Linked DNA regions of Homo sapiens. The protein of the gene in region 2 purifies or fractionates together with the protein of the main gene of each other region. This does not show direct contact. Each region holds a gene or a part of one and is shown on either strand. Other genes may lie near its edges.

What was found. The genes of interacting proteins can lie anywhere in the genome.
Region 1: the proteins of RNF103 (region 2) and CTSB purify together in Homo sapiens (affinity purification with mass spectrometry, with the first as the bait; one large-scale study listed by BioGRID). This does not show direct contact.

What each region holds. Positions count from the first base shown.
Region 1 is NC_000008.11:11,861,588-11,865,087, reverse strand, and holds part of CTSB (cathepsin B isoform 1 preproprotein), read left to right. Parts: intron 1-604; exon of another isoform or gene 605-712; intron 713-2,609; exon of another isoform or gene 2,610-2,743; intron 2,744-3,500. UniProt on the Homo sapiens protein: Thiol protease which is believed to participate in intracellular degradation and turnover of proteins. Cleaves matrix extracellular phosphoglycoprotein MEPE. Involved in the solubilization of cross-linked TG/thyroglobulin in the thyroid follicle lumen.
Region 2 is NC_000002.12:86,606,866-86,610,365, forward strand, and holds part of RNF103 (E3 ubiquitin-protein ligase RNF103), read right to left. Parts: intron 1-3,500. UniProt on the Homo sapiens protein: Acts as an E2-dependent E3 ubiquitin-protein ligase, probably involved in the ER-associated protein degradation pathway.

The DNA of each region.
Region 1 (3,500 bases), on a different chromosome or scaffold from region 2:
CAGGCAGCAGTCTCTACGTCTGGTCCCAGGCTGCCTGAGAAAGAGCATGTGGGAGGCAAACCTTGCGCCCTGGCATGGTTGTTAATGTTTATATTTACCCTAGCTTGTGTGGGGTAGGAGGTTTAGGGATCAAATTCCACTCTGTGTTTAGACATTTTTTTCTTTCTTTTTTTTTTTGAGACAGTTTCACTCTGTCACCCAGGCTGGAATGCCGTGGCACAATCTCAGCTCACTGCAACCTCACCTCCCAGGTTCAAGCAATGTTCCTGCCTCAGCCTCCGGAGTAGCTGGGATTAGAGGCATGCACCACCATGCCTGGCTAATTTTTGTATTTTTAGTAGAGACCTCAAATGATCTGCCCGCCTCGCCTCCCAAAGTGTTGGGATTACAGGTGTGAGTCACTGTGCCCAGCCATGTGTTTAGACTTTTAACTAATCTCTTTTTTAGTTTCAAGCCTTATCGTCCGCCTCTGTAGACCACTCCTGTGCCTGTTTCCTGATCCTTCCAAGGGCCATTGTATTCCCTGTCTGCTGCCCCTCTTTTGGATTCTTCTGCACATTTTTTTGTTCATGCATTCATTCATTTATTGTTTGATTAATGACAGGGTCTTGCTTTGTCTCCCAGGCTGGTGTGCAGTGGTGCGACCACGGCTCACGGCAGCCTCAGCCACCCAGATGTAAGCGATCTGGTTCCCACCTCAGCCTCCCGAGTAGTAAGTAGCTGGGACCACAGGCGGTGCCCAGGTTTTTTTTTTTTTTTTTTTTTTTTTCGTTGGTAGAGACAGGGTCTCACTGTTGCCAGGACTGCTCTGAAACTCCTGGTTTCAAGTGATCCCCTTGCCTCCTCCCACTTAGGCCTTCCAAATGCTGGGATTACAAGGCATGAGTCACCTCCAGGCCTTTTTGTACTTTTAAAACTCTGCATCAGTGTATAAACAATGTTATTAAAGTTTATATGACTTCAGTTACACTACATGGATCCTTTTTCACTCACGGTTGTGAGATTTATTTCTGTTGCTACATCCAGTTCTAGTCCATTTGTGTTAAGTGCCCAGTGTGTTTATCTACTGAGGGACAGTTATGTTATTTCGTGTTCACTATTATCCCATGCTACAATAAATATCCTGTGTCTCCCAGATACTTAGAAGAGTTTCTGCAGGGCACATGTGGGAGAGTTTGTTTCTGGGTCATGAGGTGTGTTCATCTTCCATCTTGCTAGATGCTGGCAAAGGGTTCTCCAGTGTGGTTGCATCAATTTACTCGCCCAGCAGTGTGCAGAGTTCCTGTTCCTCACATTTACCAACACTAGATAGTACCAGACTTTGATTTTTGCCAATCTGATGGGTTTGAAGTGGTACCCCTGTTTTAATTTCATGACCAGAAATTCAAATTTAATCTTTGCTGTAGGACAACAGTAACCCACTTATGCCTAGTGTTCCATTATTAGAACGCTAAGCATGTGGGAGTTTTTACATCATACTGCTCAAGGTCATCGCCAAGGTCTGATGTTTTTACTCGTGCAAAAATTTAAAAAATTGCAACCTCTGGCATAAATGGGTTGAGTGACACTTTTCCTGTTTTTATTGTTGGTCAGTGATGGCATATTTGCTGGGTTTTTTTGTTTTTTTTTTGAAACGGAGTCTCACTGTGTCGCCAGGCTGGAGTGCAGTGGTGTAATCTCGGCTCACTGTAACCTCCGCCTCCCGGGTTCAAGTGATTCTCCTGCCTCAGCCCCCTGAGTAGCTGGGATTACAGGCGTGTGCCACCACGCCCAGCTAATTTTTGTATTTTTAGTAGAGACGGGATGTCACTATGTTTGTCGGGCTGGTGTTGAACTCCTGAGCTCATGATCTGCCTGTCTTGGCTTCCCTAAGTGCTGAGATTACAGGCCTGAGCCACCGCTAGCCTATTTATTTTTTATTTTAAATTTTAATTTTCTATATAGAGACGAGGTCACTATCCTGCCCAGGCTGGTCTTAATCTCCTGGGTTCAGTCAATCTTCCCACCTTGGCCTCCCGAAGTGTCAGAATTATAGATGTGAGCCACTGTGCTCAGCCCAGAACTGATGTTTTCTAAATGCTGGGTGCTGAGAAGGATGTGTGGCTGGCAGTCTTGACTGTGTTATCTGTCTTTACCAGGCCAGTAACTTCTTTGGTCTGGTCATCAAGATAATCTAGCATCACCAGCAAGCATGCATGGAGAAGGATGGGCCCAATGTGGCCAAGATGGTAACGGGACCAGTAGAGAGCCCTGTAGAAGACATCTAGATATTCTGCCCTAAGAGCCCGGAGGGCCGGGCTGTCTCATGACCCTCTGACGTGCTGACCTGGACTCTGGCAGAATGTGCACACACACAGTCACACAGCTTCCTGGCTTGCGCAAGTCCCAGGAGGGCGGTGCCAGCCACAGGCTTTTCCCATTCGAGGGTTGGAAGCGTATCATCAAACCACATCAGAGTGCTGGGGGCCACCTGCCACCCATTCCCAACCCACTCAGCCTTCCTGGTGTTTGGGACATGCTTTGCTTTGGCAGTCAAGACAGCAGAACAAATCAACTTTTAAGGCCTTGTCACTGATAGTACAATTTCCATTATTTTTCATCCAAATTAGGATACTTCTGAAAATAGAAATGATGACTCTGGGATGCAAACGTTGGCTGTCCTATGTATAAGGAGATGGCTTTTCACGCTCCCAGTGACTGAGGAAGTTTCTCCCAGATGGCGCTGCTCTGAGCCTGGTGCAGGGTAGGCACTTTCAAAAGAGTGTCTCCTTGTATCTTCCATCAGCCTTGCGAGATGGGTATCTGTTCCCAGGGCCCCAAGGGAGGAAAACAGGACCTAGCTGGATCCAAGAGCTAGGCCTTTCTTTTTTTTTTTTTTTTTGAGATGGAGTCTGACTCTGTCGCCCAGGCTGGAGTGCAGTGGCGTGATCTCGGCTCACTGCAAACTCCGCCTCCCGGGTTCACGCCATTCTCCTGCCTCAGCCTCCCGAGTAGCTGGGACTACAGGCGCCTGCCACCATGCCTGGCTATTTTTTTGTATTTTTAGTAGAAACGGGGTTTCACCGTGTTATCCAGGATGGTCTCGATCTCCTGACCTCGTGATTCGCCCACCTCAGCCTCCCAAAGTACTGGGATTACAGGCGTGAGCCAGCATGCCCGGCCCAGAGCTAGGCCTTTCTGTGGCTGGCCTTCGCGTCAGCCTCAACTACCCTGGTGTAATCTCGCCTGCGGTTGAATTAGGGAACCGCCGTGTTCTGCAAGCTGGAGAGGCAGAACACTAATGAGCAGAACACTAATCTCATTGCAATCTCAAAGGATCTCTAAAAGCTTTTATAAAGCAGGCCCAAGGTCCTTTGGTATCCGATGCAGACGTGGTGAATGCATTGGCTCTGTCAGCATCTGAGCAAGTCAGTAACAGAAATGGGGAGTAAAAGCTTTCAGAACTTTCCAGAATATTGACTAAATTGTCTTGTTTACAACCAACAACGACAACAAAAAAT
Region 2 (3,500 bases):
CTCCTGGGCTCAAGCGATTCTCCTGCCTCAGCCTCCTTGAGTAGCTAGGACCACATATGCACGCCACCATGCTAGGCTAAGTTTTAAAAGAATTTTTTGTAGAGTTGGGGTCTCACCATGTCGCCCAGGCTGCCTTTTGTTTTTGGTTTTAGTTAGTTTTTCATGTACCACACAGAAGAGTTAATCTTTTGTTTTTAAAAAGTATTTTTTTTTCCAAAACCTACCATGTGAAATTTTTAAGTAAAATTTACCTCAATAAAGTTGTAAAAAAGACAATCTACCACATGGAAACGTTTTATTTGTTACAGATTTGTATATGCATAGTAATAAATATCTGACTTCGCATTTTGCTACTCAGAATATTGATGTAAAAGTCATAGATGTTATGCTTTACTTAGCATGGATTATATTTTATTAAATAAACATATTACACATCATATGATCAGATGAAGAGAAGAGTCTTGACGTAGGTAGCATATGGCTGTATAATGATAATATGACTAATTTTATCTCAGGGATTCTGTGATATAGTTTAAGATAAATGAAGACAACACGCTATGTCTTAAGACAAGGTTAGTGATGACTCTGGAAAACTGTCTAGGTGACTCAAAATCACAGACTGTGACTCTTAGCTTCTTGTTGAGTTGATTCACTACCTTAATAAGACAGATTCCATTAATATCATTACTGTTTTAACTGAAATGGTCTGAAAAGTATATATTCCTACAAAATAAATATCTTCTACTCAATGCAAAATAATAATTCATTGATTGACATGAATTCTATTTTTACCGTATCCCAAAAAAGTAACAAGTCAAATGCATATGGACAACTGTCTTATTTATATCTTAAATATCTTCAAGTATCTTTAATGTTTTCATTGCACTTGATATTTGTGATGACACATTTCAACTCTTGGCCATCTATTTTATCTTCCTACTATGGCCTCTGATTTGTGTCATAAATTAAATGACAGCCTTTCTGACAGAAAACTTACTTTGTAAAATGAACAAGTTCTAAGTGCAGACATTTCTTCACATAAGAAAACAAACATATTATGTGCTTTCTTTTCAGCTCAGAGCTAAGTAATAATTTTATCATTCCAGATAGAATAAGGTTGTATTACCTTACATCAATATAAAAACTTTTATTGCCAATTCAAAAAAAATTTTTTTATGATCTGAACAAATTCAATGACAATACCATGAAAATATCCTCTAGTTTTTAAACTAAACCTTTTGAGTTCTCTTAGAGAATTTTAAGACTAAAAACGATAGGAAATATGCCTTGTGAGTTTTGGTCTTCCAGTTGCTGATGTGGCATGCTATATTTAAGAAGAAGCAGGGCTCAGTGGCTCACACCTGTAATCCCAGCACTTTGGGAGGCCAAGGTGGGTGGATCACTTGAGGCCAGGAGTTTGAGAACAGTCTGGCCAACATGGTGAAACGCTGTCTCTACTGAAAATACAAAAATTAGCTGGGCATGGTGGCACGCACCTGTAATCCCAGCTACTTGGGGGGCTGAGACACAAGAATCGCCTGAACCCAGTAGGCTGAGGTTGCAGTGAGTTGAGATCGTGCCACTGTACTCCAGCCTGGGCAATAGAGTGAGACTCCATCTCAAAAAAAAAAAAAAAAAAAAAAAAGGAAGAAAGGAAGAGAGAGAAACCTTAACATTTCTGTTTATATATGCTGTTTTTTCAGACAAGGTCATTGGCCTCCTTGGTTTTCCTCGCTCTCTCTGCAATCCCCCCTTCTCTTCTCCTTCCCCGTTTTTTCCACAGGCCACCATCCCTGACACTCTTGCCATAAGGCTTCCTGTTTACCACTCAGCTCCTGCAATTTCCATGTCCTCTATCTTCTCTTTACTAATCCCCATCTCCCCAACCCTCTCTACACATCATTACCACCTCATCTCCTACTTTGTCAAAAAAAGTACAGAGTATGAACCTCACAGGAAAAGCCCTCTGAAATCGATCTGCTGGTTAGGGAATGAGAAGAGGTAGAGCCAGGCAAGGCCACTCCTTCTGGGTACATAGGGAAAGAAATTAAAGCTGCTACAACTAGACAGTCAGAAGTTGCTCAGAAGTGGTAGTCCTAAATGTTCTTAAGGGAGCTACTCTGGTTTGGTTATGGTTTGTCTGTCCCCACCAAACCTCATGTTGACATTTTCTTCCCAGTGTGGCAGTGTTGAGAGGTGAGGCCTAGTGGGAGGTGTCTGGGTCATGGAGGTGGATCCCTCATGAACACTTAGTGCTGCTCTCAAGTTAGTGAGTTCTAGCTTTGGCAAGACTGAATTAGTTCTTGTGGAAATGGAGTAGTTTCCTCGAGAGTGGGCTGACATAAAGCCACATGCCCTTCACATGTGTCCACTTCCCCTTTGACCTTCTCTACCATGTTCTGGCAGCACAGAAGCCTCACCAGAAGCTGAGCAGATGCTGGCACCATGGTTCTTATACAGCCTGCAGAACAGTGAGCTAAATAAATCTATTTTCTTCATAAATTACTCAGCCTCAGGTATTTTTTTTTTTTTTTTTTGAGACAGAGTCTCGCTCTTGTCACCCAGGCTTGGAGTGCAGTGGTGCAATCTCGGCTCACTGCAACCTCCACCTCCTGGGTTCAGGTGATTCTCTTGCCTCAGTCTCCCGAGTAGCTGGGATTACAGGCACCCGCCACCACGCCTGGCTAATTTTTGTATTTTTAGTAGAGACAGGTTTCACCATGTTGGCCAGGCTGGTCTCCAACTCCTTACCTCCGGTGATCTACCTGCCTCAGCCTCCCAAAGTGCTGGGATTACAGGCGTGAGCCACCACTCAGCCTCAGGTATTCTTATACAGCAACACAAAACAGACTAAGGCAGGAGCTAAACAGGTCAGGAAAGTACAGCTGTACAGTGGGACCAGCACACTGAAGTCAGCTGCCCAGAGGCCACCCCAGAGAAGGGACTACAGTCAAAGAATGCAGCATAGACAGTGGGGCACAGAGTTTTGGTATTTTTAAAACTCCAAAATCAAGATGATGACTCAATTATTCAAAATATGTGATTAAAACACTTCCTGAATAACACTATTCTCTGCCCACTTACACCCTGCATTGAAATTCTGAACACTCTTCTCTATATCTCTAAATTTTGTTCTTCTATATCTCCATAGTCATCAAAAGAAAAGAAAAATGACCCTGACTAAGCATAGCTTCTATGGCAAGAACAATTCTTATTCCAGTTGGAGGACTTTCCAAATGAGGAGTCATGGGCACATTATTGGAACTGGTACAAGTCACTGTGCAACAAAATCATTTTCTGATGAAGCTGAGTAGAAGTACTTTTTTAAATAACAAAAACTATAGCTACAATCAACAAAAAAGCAAAAAGTTATCCAAAAAAACATTGCTTCAATTGTAAATAAGAGGTAGGATTATTTGAAGATGAAGGATTTAGAGGAAAACATCTGGAGCTAGCTTGTATGTATCTCTTCACCATTTCTCAGCTAATACAGAATCAGA